4 linked regions of the Homo sapiens genome follow. The protein of the gene in region 1 purifies or fractionates together with the protein of each later gene. This does not show direct contact. Each region holds a gene or a part of one and is shown in the gene's direction. Other genes may lie near its edges.

The links. Proteins that work in one complex are often made in the same cells at the same time.
Region 2: the proteins of ISOC1 (region 1) and PFAS fractionate together in Homo sapiens (co-fractionation; one large-scale study listed by BioGRID). This does not show direct contact.
Region 3: the proteins of ISOC1 (region 1) and UBFD1 fractionate together in Homo sapiens (co-fractionation; one large-scale study listed by BioGRID). This does not show direct contact.
Region 4: the proteins of ISOC1 (region 1) and MTHFD1L fractionate together in Homo sapiens (co-fractionation; one large-scale study listed by BioGRID). This does not show direct contact.

What each region holds. Positions count from the first base shown.
Region 1 is NC_000005.10:129,093,249-129,097,548, forward strand, and holds the start of ISOC1 (isochorismatase domain-containing protein 1), read left to right. Parts: upstream 1-1,500; 5' UTR 1,501-1,518; coding exon 1,519-1,827; exon of another isoform or gene 1,828-2,151; intron 2,152-3,300; exon of another isoform or gene 3,301-3,531; intron 3,532-4,300.
Region 2 is NC_000017.11:8,255,789-8,259,288, forward strand, and holds part of PFAS (phosphoribosylformylglycinamidine synthase), read left to right. Parts: intron 1-16; coding exon 17-122; intron 123-478; coding exon 479-619; intron 620-735; coding exon 736-860; intron 861-1,046; coding exon 1,047-1,175; intron 1,176-2,018; coding exon 2,019-2,150; intron 2,151-2,282; coding exon 2,283-2,411; intron 2,412-3,500. UniProt on the Homo sapiens protein: Phosphoribosylformylglycinamidine synthase involved in the purines biosynthetic pathway. Catalyzes the ATP-dependent conversion of formylglycinamide ribonucleotide (FGAR) and glutamine to yield formylglycinamidine ribonucleotide (FGAM) and glutamate.
Region 3 is NC_000016.10:23,556,322-23,560,526, forward strand, and holds the start of UBFD1 (ubiquitin domain-containing protein UBFD1), read left to right. Parts: upstream 1-1,405; 5' UTR 1,406-1,421; coding exon 1,422-1,446; intron 1,447-1,628; coding exon 1,629-1,958; intron 1,959-3,146; coding exon 3,147-3,355; intron 3,356-3,457; exon of another isoform or gene 3,458-3,547; intron 3,548-4,205. Other genes in the region: EARS2 (nondiscriminating glutamyl-tRNA synthetase EARS2, mitochondrial), read right to left, coding at 884-1,022. UniProt on the Homo sapiens protein: May play a role as NF-kappa-B regulator.
Region 4 is NC_000006.12:151,099,702-151,102,387, forward strand, and holds the end of MTHFD1L (monofunctional C1-tetrahydrofolate synthase, mitochondrial isoform 2 precursor), read left to right. Parts: exon of another isoform or gene 1-294; intron 295-1,824; 3' UTR 1,825-2,186; downstream 2,187-2,686. UniProt on the Homo sapiens protein: May provide the missing metabolic reaction required to link the mitochondria and the cytoplasm in the mammalian model of one-carbon folate metabolism complementing thus the enzymatic activities of MTHFD2.

The sequences.
Region 1 (4,300 bases):
CCACCCAAAATAGGTAGGTACCTTTTGGTAATCAGGTCTTGAGGGGGTACACTTATTAGCACAAATCAGCATATCTGCATATAGAAGACCTTGCAATGGAGTGGTATCCGGAAAAAAATATCATTTTGGGTCTGACGGGTTCAGACAACACTTTTAAATGGGATCTCTCAAAGTGTGATGAGAACCAGAAAAAAATGGCTATTTCTAGTAGCTTCGGTACAATTGAGCAAGAAACACCAAAGGATGGTCTTTTCATAACTTTAAAGCAGTGTGGTTCTCAAGTAGGGGGTATATTTGCCCTCTGGGGAATATTTGGCAATGTCTGGAAACATTTTTGATTGCCATAACTAGAGGGAGGAGCGGTCACTAGGCATCTAGCGGGAGTAGAAGCCGGTGATGCTGCTAAATATCCTGCAAATGCACAAGATGCCCCATCCCCAAGAAAGAGAAATGTCCATTCCAGAAGTCAACAGTGTCAGTTGGGAAACCCTGCTTTAAAGGTTATTTTCTTAGAAGAGGACAGCTTTAATACCTAAAATCTAATTTTATGTTTAGGCCCATGCCTATCTTCGCAGGACTCAATTCCAAGGAAATTCTGTTCATAATGCATGCTTTCTAATTCCAGTTAATTATAGCGCCTTACAGTGTGCAGAAGGCAGAGGATTGTTTTATTTGAAAGTGATCCCTTTTACTTACTTAAAAACAGATATCCTTAGTTTCAATATAAAGTTCAGATTTTTGCTTTTAATAGTATTTATATTCCCAAATCCAAGTCCTCCCAGAAATAGGTTGAGATGAAGGGAGGCCAGATATCAAATCCATTCCTAGAGATATTGTGTTCTGTGGGACCGAAAAAAGACAAAACTTGAACCTTGACTGGCCCTCTAAGGATTAAATTCTGCTGCTCTTCTTAGGGTATCTATCGGACTGTCCCTTTGGTTGTAAGATACCACTGCCATCTCGAGGAGGACTGCATGCTTCTGCACAGAGCCAACAGGTAACTCGTCCTGGCGGCTCTGTGTACCCAACCACAACCCTAGACTGCCAAGAACACTGCTCATTCGAAGGCGAGCGAAGCCGCGAAGAGGGCCAGCGTTAGGGGAAGGGTGGTACAAACCCTTGTGTGAGCTGCAGCACCGGGGCAAGAACAACGGGCAGCCCAGGCGGGTCTTGGGTCTGCGAGACCACTAGGCGTTCTGCCGGCAGTCAGAACCGCGGCAGAAAGGGCGCGAGCGGGGAACTGCGGGAACGCAGCGGCCCGGGAAGCTGGAGGGGGCGGACCCGGCCGGCGAGCGCAGGCGCTCCCTGGCTCACGCGCGCACCCCGGCCCCACCACCCACCCTTACGCCGCGGCCCGCCCTCCGGGGCGGGTAAGAGAGCGCGCGAGCAGCGGTCGTCAGGACACGCCCCTTCGCCTCCGCGAGCTGGCGGGCGGGCTGGCATCGCCGGGAGGCGGGGCCGCGGCAGCCGGCTGGGTGCGACTGGGCGGCCTCGGAGCTCGCAGACGCTCGGGGGAACATGGCGGCTGCGGAGCCGGCGGTCCTTGCGCTCCCCAACAGCGGCGCCGGGGGCGCGGGGGCGCCGTCGGGCACAGTCCCGGTGCTCTTCTGTTTCTCAGTCTTCGCGCGACCCTCGTCGGTGCCACACGGGGCGGGCTACGAGCTGCTCATCCAGAAGTTCCTCAGCCTGTACGGCGACCAGATCGACATGCACCGCAAATTCGTGGTGCAGCTGTTCGCCGAGGAGTGGGGCCAGTACGTGGACTTGCCCAAGGGCTTCGCGGTGAGCGAGCGCTGCAAGGTGCGCCTCGTGCCGTTGCAGATCCAGGTGGGTCCTGCGGGAGGCCGCGCGCTTCCCTGTTCCCGAGTCGTCCCCGTCCCCGTCCCTGTCCCCGCCTTCGCCGCGCTCCTCAGGTGCCCCGAGCCGCCCGGGACCCGGGCCCTGCGCGAGTGGCTGAGTCCGAAGGGCTGCGCGTCTTTCGCAAGTTCCGGGGCCGGCTGGGGAATGCCCCTGTCCAAAGGTGATGGTCACCAGCTGTCCCCGGCGGGGGCGTGGGCCTCGTAGCTGGTTTCAGCGCCCGCGAACGCCCCCACGTGTGTGGTCCTCGGTCGCCCGCATCCGCTTTTTATGCCAGGATCAGGTCCCAGCCTCCTGCGTAACCAAAGGGCTGTGCTGTAGTAGCTGTTTTTATTTTGGGGTGATGGGTGATGCAGAATGGGGGGAAATGAGATTGTGGGGAGTATTGGTCTTAGGGTTTGTTCCTAGAGTTGTGTTAACCACTTGCGGAAACGCAAACTTTGGGAGTCAAACCCATTCCCCCCCGCCTTCCCAGGCTCTCAGGTCCTTGGGCTTAAGAGTTCCCTAACCTTAAGCAAATAACCATTTGCTTAGCCTCCTCTTAGTAAAGTGTCTACTGACTTGATTACGTTTTGTCGTCTGCATTGAAAAAGTCATTTGACTCCATGATTGTAATTCCTTCTTGAATACAAATACCCAACTTAAGCTAGACCTTGAGTTCCTGGGCCTGCTGGCTGGGAAAGTTGTTCTACCTGAGGACTACTTAACAGCATTTATTTTAAGCTGTGCTCTCATGCTAGGCGGGTTAATCTTCCGCCCTCTTTAGGATCAGATTGTTCACTGGCGAATTTATATTTTGGAAAGGAAAGAATATAAGGTATAATTTAGGTAGTACACTGTCGATATCATTTCTTTAGCTGAGAAACTGATAAGTCATTTTTTCAGAAGACCAAACTGAAATGTGGGATTCGGGGATAAAAGGTATTTTAATATTTAAGTGTCATTTTCTTTCTTTTTTGTTTTTAGTTTTTATGGGCACATAATAGTTGTACATATTTATAGGAGACGTGATATTTTGATTCAAGCATACAGTGTAGTGATCAAATCAGGGTAATTGGAATATCCATTACCTGAAACATTTATCATTTATTTCTTTGTTCCAAATTCATTTTTGTAGTTATTTTGAAATATACAATAAATTATTGTTAACTATAGTCACGCTATTGTGCTACTGAACACTAGAGCTTATTCCTATTATCTGTGTTTTTTGTACCCATTAACAGTGCCATTTTCTGAGGATTATTCCCTAGTTTTTTTCCGCTGTAGTTGGCAGCTGAATTGATGATGTTTCCTGTCACCCCAACACCTGTGCCAGAAGTGTCCAAAGCAGGTACTTTAGCTTCGATAAAGTTCCTGCATTCAGAGGACAAAGTCAGAGACTGCACTCTCTGCCAGTGGAGAACCTGGAACTGGATACAGTGATCTGATACCCCAGAATCTTACCTGCTGCTCAGATAGGGAATTGCAGTTCTTAGGTGCTTAAGACTCCTCATTTTTATGTCTTCAAGCGTTTTCGTGTCTGACACCTCTCTGCAGCCTTCCTTGTCAGTCCTTTTACGTTACTGCTGCCAGAATACTCAGATGTTGGATGCACCTTTGAGAAGTCCATTTATAAAGGCTAGAATCCAAATACTAACTGCGGAGGTCTGGGACTAAGGATGCAGACTTCTTTATGAAGCATTTCCTGTTACGGCTTGGAGGGAGGCTGGGCTCTTATCTAAGATAATGCTATTCTAAACTAGGCCCCAGCTCTGTAAGAGTCCCCGCCTTCCAAGATAGGATTTTTATATTTGAAAATTTCAGGGCCTTGGTCTGGCAACTCTTAAAAACATTCTAGAAATTAATGAAATGTATGTACCTGAAAACGCTTGTACATTCTCAAAAGGCGTTATATAATTCTGGTCACCTGTAGCTTTTGCAGTGTTTTGCTTGGTATAGGAGATTATGTATAGTTCACTTTTTTTTGGTGAGGTTTAAAATAACAATAGCATTACTCTACTCCCTCTTCAGAAGAAATTTTTCCGCCAACTAGTCTAATAATTCTTAAGCATTAGTTATATTTTTGCATTTATATAGCTTTATATTTTTAATTCTTTAAAAATATTTTCTCTTCTATATTATCTCATTTTAGTAGTTATACTTTGACTTCTTCAGCCTGATGCCTCTCCTAGCTTAGAGGTAGATAAAGGAAGGGGATAGATACATAAATATGCACACACTGTGTATCGTATATACCTTCTGATACCGATTTATGTCTATATGAGAAGAGAGAGATATATATACACACATACATATATATGCATATGTGTGTATAATCTCAGAAAGTCATGATATTTCTCATGACTACTGTACACTATATTCTTTGGAACCTAACAGCATAATCCTAGAGACTTGGATGTTTTATGGCTGTAAGAGACCATACAGTTCATTCCACAACATGTGA
Region 2 (3,500 bases), on another chromosome or scaffold:
TGGATTTGTCTCCTAGGTCTGGCTTTAGACTCTTGGGACCTAGACTTCTACACCAAGCGCTTCCAGGAGCTACAGCGGAACCCGAGCACTGTGGAGGCCTTTGACTTGGCGCAGTCCAATAGGTGAGGAGAAATGGGGTTGTTCCCATACCTGAGCCCATGGGTGTTGGGAGAGACCACAGGGGCTCACCTTCATGTTCCTCCCTTGGCTTAGGGGCCTCCCTGAGTCTCTGAGGGCCTGGGCTCCCGTCATCCATCAAGGAGTCTACATTCAAATCTTGGTTTTATCTTCACTTTGGCTCTGGATAGTCCAAAATGACAGAATACTTGAAGATTATGACTTTTTGGAATATATTTTGATCTGTCATCTAAGTATGAATTTGGCTGTAACTCTGCTGTTAAATGCTGGTGAGAAGACATGGCATTAAGAAATGACCCCGTTTCCACCTGCCTTCCCCTCCCTGCATCGCCCCCTGCAGCGAGCACAGCCGACACTGGTTCTTCAAGGGCCAGCTCCACGTGGATGGGCAGAAGCTGGTGCACTCACTGTTTGAGTCCATCATGAGCACCCAGGAATCCTCGAACCCCAACAACGTCCTCAAATTCTGTGATAACAGCAGGTGCTGTGCCCTAGACTGGGTTGGCGTCAGGACCCGGGGAGGGGAGGCCCCAGGCCCTGGTTGGGTTAGTGTAGGTCCCAGAAAGGAAGCAAGGTCCATGACGGGTATGTCCACAGTGCAATCCAGGGAAAGGAAGTCCGATTCCTACGGCCTGAGGACCCCACACGGCCAAGCCGCTTCCAGCAACAGCAAGGGCTGAGACATGTTGTCTTCACAGCAGAGACTCACAACTTTCCCACAGGTGAGCTGGGTTCCCTGGAGAAATAGGTGAGATCACAGAATAGGGTAGGGCAAAGGTCCCAGGCCCCTGGAGTGGGCCTGGGGAAAATAATCAGGGAAATTGGTTGTCCTTATTTTCAGTGGGGGTGGTCAGAGATGGGGGTTTGTCTCTGAGGCACCCAGACCTCTCCCCACTCTCTCTTTGCAGGAGTATGCCCCTTTAGTGGTGCAACCACTGGCACAGGGGGCCGGATTCGAGATGTCCAGTGCACAGGCCGCGGGGCCCACGTGGTGGCTGGCACTGCCGGCTATTGCTTTGGAAATCTGCATATTCCAGGTTCCATCTCCTTCCTCTCTATCCACCTTCCCTTCCAGATTCCTTGTCCTGGCAGGCAGCAAACTTCTATCTGTTAGGTCCATAGGGTTATCCTGTGTGCCTTTTCTCAGGAGGAAGGGCTCTAGGATAGCTGGCCTTTCACTAACTATGGTCATAAGTGTAGACCTGGGGAGATGAGGTGGCCAGACTGCTTTTGCAGGTCTACGATTTTCTTTAAAAACTAGCCTTCATTCAGCCAGAAAGCATGATATTGGGTTGGTCTTATGATCAGTACCTGCCCCTCAAATCTGGTTTCTTAGCCTGAGAAACTTGGCTGGGCGTGGTGGCTCACGCCTGTAATCCCAGCACTTTGGGAGGCTGAGGTGGGCGGATCACAAGGTCAGGAGATCAAAACCATCCTGGCTAACACGGTGAAACCCCGTCTCTACTAAAAATACAAAAAATTAGCTGGGCGTGGTGGCGGGCGCCTATAGTCCCAGCTACTCAGGAGGCTGAGGCGAGAGAATGGCGTGAACCCGGGAGGCGGAGCTTTCAGTGAGCCAAGATCACGCCACTGCACGCTAGCCTGGGTGATAGAGCGAGACTCCATCTCAAAAAAAAAAACAGAAAGCCTGTGTAACTCTGATTGCGAGATTCAGAGGGAAGGCTGGTGTGGGTGGTGGAAAGAAGACCAGTGCCTCACTGCAGGCTCTAGGGCTTCCTAAAGCAGGACTTCCTGAAGTGGAACATTGCAACCATGCAGGTGGTCCTTGGTGGCCTTGACTCTTCCTGAAGGATGCAGGCTGCTCCGGCCTGTCTTCACAGTTCATTCAGTTCATCCAGTTCTCTCTCCTTCCCTCCCAGGTTACAATCTGCCCTGGGAGGATCCAAGCTTCCAGTATCCTGGGAATTTTGCCCGGCCCCTGGAGGTTGCCATTGAAGCCAGTAATGGAGCTTCTGACTATGGCAACAAGTTTGGGGAACCAGTGCTGGCTGGTGAGGCTGGGGTGTGGAGGGATGACAAACACCCAGAGGGGCTTGTGGGTGGGGTGTGCGACCCAGGGGCTGTGCTATTGGGCGAGCACTGGGGGAACTGAGTGACAGGTCCCTCTGATGTTCACACTCCAGGCTTCGCCCGCTCCTTGGGCCTCCAGCTCCCAGACGGCCAGCGGCGTGAGTGGATCAAGCCCATCATGTTTAGTGGGGGCATTGGGTCCATGGAAGCTGACCACATAAGCAAGGAGGCCCCAGAGCCAGGTAAGAGCCTGCCACCTTTCTCTGGATCCAGCCAGCTTTCTCCCCAGCACAGGATGGCTACAGGGAGGGAACTTAGGGAACACTTCAGTGGTTAGTTTTTAATATGTTGGCTTATCTTATGTGTCACATAATGATGGACAACTCATTCTGAGAAATGTGGCTATTAGGTAATTTCATTATTGTGCCCACTTCATAGACTGTACATACACAAACCTAGATGGCATAGCCTGCTACACGATCCACACAGCCTCTTACTGGCAATATTATCCAGGAATTTTGTACACTTGGGAGCCATGATGAACAAAACAGCATGAGAATAAAATAAGCACAAGAGAAAATAATGCAATCAAGACGTGGTGGGCCAGGCAGGGTGGCTCGCACCTGTAATCTCAGCACTTTGGGAGACTGAGACAGGTGGATCACCTGAGATCAGGAGTTCAAGACCAGCCTGACCAACATGCTGAAACCCTGTTGCTACTAAAAACACAAAAATTAGCCAGGCATCTGCCGGGCATGGTGGCTCATGCCTGTAATCCCAACACTTTGGGAGGCTGAGGTGGGCAGATCACGAGGTCAGGAGATCGAGACCATCCTGGCTAACACGGTGAAACCCCGTCTCTACTAAAAAAATAAAAAAATTAGCCAGGTGTGGTGGCGGGCACCTGTAGTCCCAGCTACTCGGAGGCTGAGGCAGGAGAATGACGTGAACCCAGGAGGTGGAGCTTGCAGTGAGCTGAGATCCCACCACTGCACTCCAGCCTGGGCGACAGATGGAGACTCCATCTCAAAAAAAAAAAAAAAAAAATTACCCAGGCGTCATGGTGCATGCCTATAGTCCCAGCCTCCTGAGGCACAAGAACCACTTGAAGCTGGGAGGTGGAGGTTGCAGTGAGTGGAGATCGCACCACTGCGATCGCACCACTGTCAAAAAAAAAAAAAAAGACGTGGTAAATATGAGATAATATGAAGCTACTGTCAATGTAACATGGCATACCGTTTTTAGGTAAACTTTTTTTTCTCTTTTTTGTTAATTATTATTATTTTTAATCTGCATTTTCTTTCTCAAGTCAGATTTTTTTTCTCTTTTTA
Region 3 (4,205 bases), on another chromosome or scaffold:
TTGGTACCTGCGATTTCCTCTACCCAGAAGGTTCCTTCTTTTTTGTTTTTGAGACACAGTTTCGCTCTTGTTGCCCAGGCTGGAGTGCAATGGCGCGATCTTGGCTCACCGCAATCTCCACCTCCTGCGTTCAAGCGATTCTCCTGCCTCAGCCTCCCAAGTAGCTGGGATTACAGGCATGCGCCACCATGCCCAGATAATTTTGTATTTTTAGTAGAGACAGGGCTTCACCATGTTGGTCAGACGGCTCTCAAGTGATCCACTTGACCTCAAGTGATGCACCCACCTCTGCCTCCCAAAGTGCTGGGATTACAAGCGTGAGCCACCGCGCCTGGCCTCCAGAAGGTTCCTTCTATAGGCTTCACATAGCGTGCTCCTTCTTGTCATTTGGATCTCAGCTCAAATGTTACCTGCTCAGTAAAGCCTTCTGGAGCGTCCTTCTTAATCCCCAGTCTCCTATCCTGTTTCACTTCCCGCATGGCACATGTGACTCTAAAATTACACTTATTTTTTATAAGTGTCTGCGGCAGCCACTAGAATGCAGACTTCCACAGAGCAAGGCCCCTACCTTTCTCAATGATCACTGTATCCCAGCGTCTACAACACCTGTTACACAGGTTGTCATCAATGCACATGTATGGAATGCATGAAAAAAAGATCGAAAGAGATGGGATGGCACAAAAAACACAAGAAACTCCTGGCAATTTGAATTATTTCCGCTCCTGCACCTCAGTTTCCGCCTCTGTAAAATGGGCTCGCGCTGCCTTAACCCTCCTCCGCCCGCCCACTCTGACACCACCGGAAAGGATTCATTCGGGAACATTCGTGGGGCGGAGACGGGACAGGGGGCCTCGGCCTGTAGCGTCACGTCCGCCAGGGTTACCTGTGGGGCTGGGAGCGAACCGCACTCGCACCGCAACCCCGGCATCAGTGCCCAGGTTGGCCTCGCGCCGTCCTACGGGGCGGCCAGAGGCCGCCGAAGGCCTCTCGCGCTGCAGCAGTCTCCTCAGGAGCGCCGCCATGTGGGATGGAATAGCACACGTGGGCTTCTCCCTGCGTCACTTCCGGGGACTGCTTCCAGCCAATCGGCCTCCGCCACAGCCAGCGCAGCCTTGCCCCTTAAAGTCACAGGCCCCCTAGCGCGAAATCCCACGCCCCCCTGGACGGCTGCGGCCGCACTCGCCACCAGGGGGCAGAGGCCAGAGAAAGGGCTATTTCCCGGACCCGCCCCCTTCAGCTTGGGAAAGCGAAAGCGTGGCAGGGGCCGGACCTGGGAGCGGAGGAGGCGGGTCTCCATAGAAACCTCCACCTGTTTCCGGCCGGGCTGTGAGAGATTAGGGGCTGCTGCGGGGGCCAATCTCAGCCAGCTCGCCTCTTCCCAGCGGCCTCTGCGGGAGCGGTGGGTGTTGTACACAATCATCATGGCGGCGGCCGGGGCCCCGGATGGTGAGTGCGGCGGGGGTGGCGGGCGCCGGGCCGGGGCTGAGGTTGCGGTCGCTCCTCTGGGGGATGCGGCCCGGCCCGGGAGGGAGAACCGCGGCTCGGGAACGGAGGTCCGGCGGCGCCCGGACAGCGTCCGTTCCCAAGCCCAGCCCGCGGCGAGCGCCCACCCCCTAACCCCCTTGCAGGCATGGAGGAACCTGGCATGGACACGGAGGCCGAGACTGTGGCTACTGAGGCTCCCGCGCGGCCCGTCAACTGCCTGGAGGCTGAAGCCGCGGCGGGGGCGGCGGCCGAGGACTCCGGCGCCGCACGAGGCAGCCTGCAGCCGGCCCCGGCCCAGCCCCCTGGGGACCCCGCAGCCCAGGCCTCGGTCAGCAACGGCGAAGACGCGGGCGGCGGCGCGGGCAGGGAGCTGGTGGACTTGAAGATCATCTGGAATAAGACCAAGCATGACGTGAAGTTCCCCCTGGACAGCACAGGCTCCGAGCTGAAACAGAAGATCCACTCGATTACAGGTAATTCCTGTGGCGCTGACAGCCAGTCTTCCCCACCCCGCCTCCTGATGGCCCTTGCACCCTACTAGGCACCTGGTGGCTTTCCTTGCATCAGGTCCCCCCATCCTTACAGCAGTCTTCTGAAGGATACTTGGATGCCCATTACTCAGCTGGGGAAAGAGACTCAAGTTTATAGAGCTAGTAAGTTGCAGAGCTGGGATTAAAGCCGAAGTCTGACGTTTAGGCCCCAGTTTCTCATTGATGTTGCTCTAACATCTCTAATTAAAAAATCACCTAAGGCGCTTGTTTTACAGCTTCTGGGCCCTTTCCCAGGAGATTCTGATTCAGTGGGTCTGGGATGTAGCCAGGAATTTATTTTTAGCAAATATCTTAGGTAATTCTTCTAAGTGAAGTTTAGGAAACGCTGCTATTGACTTTGATGCTGGTTCTTCACAGTCGATTCTGTTTCTTAATTTTACCTTGTTCATAGCTCTTTGCCATCTGAGATTTCTTTTCTTTTTCCTATTTTTTTTTTTTTTTGAGACGGAGTCTTGCTCTGTTGCCCAGGCTGGAGTGTACTGGCACCATCTTGGCTCACTGCAGCCTCCGCCTCCCAGGTTCAAGCGATTCTCCTGCCTCAGCCTCCCGAGTAGCTGGGATTACAGGTGCCCGCTACCCCGCCGGGCTAGTTTTTTTTATTTTATCCACCCACCTCGGCCTCCCGAAGTGCTGGGATTACAGGCATAAGCCATCACTCCTGGCCTTGAACTTTTTTTTTTTTTTAAAGCTTTCTACATGTAGCCTTGTAATCTCCATTAAGAACAGGAGTTTTGTCCCTATTGGCTTCTGTAGCTCTGATGCCTGTGGATTCTCACTTAATATGTGAATGATTTAGATGACTGAGGAACAACTTGGAAAGAATGAGAGCTAGTACTTACTGAACAATTATTCAATGCTAGCCACCGTACTAAATGCCCCGCATTGGTCTCTTAATCCTTGAAACAGGTCTGTACAGAAGGACTTACTCTAATAAATCTTCTACAGTTCTAGAAACTGAGGTTCAGAGGTTGTAAATCTCCCAAGTTCACAAAGCTAATAGGTGGTGGAGGCAGTATTCACTTTTTGGTCTGTTACCAAAGAGCTGTGTAGTATCCATACATTTTTCTGTCCTTCCTTCCTTTCACTGTCCACCTTCTACCTTTTCCCAAGGTCTCCCGCCTGCCATGCAGAAAGTCATGTATAAGGGACTCGTCCCCGAGGATAAAACATTGAGAGAAATAAAAGTGACCAGTGGGGCCAAGATCATGGTGGTTGGCTCCACCATCAATGATGTTTTAGCAGTAAACACACCCAAAGATGCTGCGCAGCAGGATGCAAAGGCCGAAGAGAACAAGAAGGAGCCTCTCTGCAGGCAGAAAGTGAGTCCATCTTGTGCTTCTTGGTCTTGAGAAATTTGAGGCTTTGTCCTCTTGAGCCGTGGCTGGTTATATTCTCCCTAGAATAAGCTCCTTTTTGGACAGGGCCCATGATGGAAATTTATGGCAGCAGTTGGGTGCCGCAGAGTGGAGGTGACAACTACCTGAGATTTGCAACTTTGTCTCATCTGGCGGGTCAGTGTGTCTCAAGTCTACCTACTTTAGGATAAGACCTTGGTAAAGGGAGGCTTCAGACCATGTGTTGAAAGGAATCAGACGTGGGTTTCTCTCTCTTATTTAGTGCCAGAGAAAACTACCAGTACTAGAAGTAAGCCCTCATTTTGTACAAGTGCTTACATTTGGCTTTTTGGTTTGTGGCTTTCCCCAAGTCAACAAGCCTGGCTAGGCATGGAAATCAACAACTCTCGGAGGTTCCCCTAAAGCTGACCGTTTCAGGAAGCTAAATGAAGCTGAGTAGGAAGACAACTACACTGATGGATTTGTTTATTTATTTTTTTGTCCTGATCTGTGAAATAGGAGCTTGGTTTTTTACGTTCTCTGTTCTTTTGGCTGCAAGAGATCCTGCCTTGTCTTGTGCTCATCATAGCCATTAACATTCTTTCACGTAACGAGGAAAAGTGAGATTATTTTACTATGGAAGGAACAGGTTGTAAGAATCATTACTTGTTATCTTTTTACCTGGCAAATTATACTGATTGCTGTGTAGCCTCCTGATCGTTCTTCCTAGTGTTCCAAGGAAGACAGGTATTCTCAACTGTGTCTGAAGTAGAGTAGATAAACTTCAATCAACATCATTTAGTGACCATAGACACTAAGATATATGACCAACAGT
Region 4 (2,686 bases), on another chromosome or scaffold:
TTATGGGAGCAACAAAAAAACAAAGCACATGCTGCCCAGTGGCTTCCGGAAGTTCCTGGTCCACAACGTCAAGGAGCTGGAAGTGCTGCTGATGTGCAACAATCGTACTTGTGCCGAGATCGCTCACAATGTTTCCTCCAAGAACCGCAAAGCCATCGTGGAAAGAGCTGCCCAACTGGCCATCACAGTCACCAACCCCAGTGCCAGGCTGTGCAGCGAAGAAAATGAGTAGACAGCTCGTGTGCACATTTTCTGTTTAAATAAATGTAAAAACAGCCATCTGGCATCTTCCTTTAAAAAAAAAGAAAAGAAAGAAATATTTTCTTTCTTTTCTTTTTTTTTTTTTTTTTGAGACGCAGTCTCGCTCTGTCACCCAGGCTGAAGTGCAGTGGCACGATCTCGGCTCACTGCAAGCTCCGCCTCCCGGGTTCACGCCATTCTCCTGCCTCAACCTCCAGAGTAGCTGGGACTACAGGCACCTGCCACCACGCCCAGCTAATTTTTTTGTATTTTTTTAATAGACACGGGGTTTCACCGTGTTAGACAGGATGGTCTTGATCTCCTGACCTCGTGATCCACCCGTGAGCCACCGCGCCTGGCCTGAAATATTTTATTTTTGTTCATCTTTGTTGTGCTTATAATACTCCTGTTTTCTGTTTATTCCCCTGACTTGAACCAGATGTTAGGGGAGTATTTGAAGCTCCTCGTTCCCTCTCTTCATCAATATCTTCTGTCTAGAAACTAACCAAGCACCTTATCTGGCTCCAGACCTCTCAGTGATCTGTGGGAGGCCAACTCGCAGGATTTCAGCAGAGTTTGCACTTTCTAGGCCTAAAAGATAAGTCCTTCCATGTGTAAGTTCAGATTAAAGGCAACATATTGCATTTACATTTTAGAGAGGTGAACACATTATTTTCTGGGACTTAAGTGTTGTTTTGTTTCTTTTTTTTTTTTTTAATGTAGTTTATTTCTCTTTCTAAGAGATTACAGGATTCAAGAATGGCAATGAATCTTAATAGCCTTTGGGAGAAAGCAGCAAAGCTTTAATACTAAGTTCCAGGACCATGAACTTCCATGTTGTCCTAAATGCATTTTTCAAACATTGCTTTCTGTGCCTACTCTATAAAACCTAAAAATCCAAGGTGACAGTATTCCTTATCTAAAATCCTAAACAAGGCTGGGCGTGGTGGTTCATACCTGTAATCCCAGCACTTTGGGAGGACAAGGCAGGCGGATCACTTGAGCCCAGGAGTTCAAGACCAGCCTGGCCAACGTGGTGAAACCTCGTCTTTACTAAAAATACAAAAATTAGCCGGGCATGGTGGTGCACACTTGTAATCCCAGCTACTCCGGAGGCTGTGGCGGGAGGATTGCTTGAACCCGGGAGACGGAGGTTGCAGTGAGCCGAGATCTCGCCACTACACTCCAGCCTGGGCGACAAAGTGAGACTCTGTCTCAAAAAATTAAAAAAAAATTTTTTTAAATCCTAAATATTCTCATTCCACAGGATCCTGCAAACTGTAGATCCCAAACTTGGAAGTTCTGGGAATTCTGCCAGTATCCCCAAGTAAATCTCTTGGGAAGTTTAGAATGCTGCATGGCGTAGCTGTGCCTGCTCTTATAGAGTGGTGCAGACTCTGCTTCTCCACGTCTGCTAAGTAAAATATTCCAAACACAGATCAGCCTTATCTAGCGAACCATCACTCTGCTCTTGAATTTTCTTTTGGCCTCAAACTCTAGAGCTATAACATGTTAACGGTTTAACACCAGAGGAGAAAGCTATTCTTAAACTACTCAAACATGGTTTTTTTTTCTATTTTTCAGACTCCTGAAACAGACTACTCTTTGCCTTTTTGCTGCAGTTGGAGAAGAAACTGAATTTGAAAAATGTCTGTTATGCAATGCTGGAGACATGGTGAAATAGGCCAAAGATTTCTTCTTCGTTCAAGATGAATTCTGTTCACAGTGGAGTATGGTGTTCGGCAAAAGGACCTCCACCAAGACTGAAAGAAACTAATTTATTTCTGTTTCTGTGGAGTTTCCATTATTTCTACTGCTTACACTTTAGAATGTTTATTTTATGGGGACTAAGGGATTAGGAGTGTGAACTAAAAGGTAACATTTTCCACTCTCAAGTTTTCTACTTTGTCTTTGAACTGAAAATAAACATGGATCTAGAAAACCAACCAGCAAGTTTTCAGTGCCAGATAAAACTCTGCGCTCTAGAGGTAACTCCTCATGGGAGGCAGCTAGGAGTGTTACCTGACACCAGTTTCCTAGAAAACTGTGACAAGCAAAGCAATAACACACGTCGAGAAATATCTGATCAAGCGGGAAATCTTCTGACTGTCGGGGATCTCTAGTAAGATCTCTTGGAATGAAGTGCACTGTGTATCCAAAACTATTTTCCAGCGCCAGTGAAGTTGCTCTTACCTAAAACAAATGGGTTTATGCTAGTTTCCACCAAGGAATGAGTCTCGATGGCCATTAAACTTTCTAAGGCCCACAGGGCTAGGAAAAGTCGCTCTTAAAGGTCAGGTGTTTGGAAAATGTTTTTCCTTTTGCCCAACCCTTAATTAGTAGTAGAGAATGTTCTGTGGCCTATTCCCCTCTCTGGGAGTTCCTGACCCTTCTTTGTTTTCCAGTTTTTCCTACAATAATATAAAATTACGTAAAAGTTAAAACA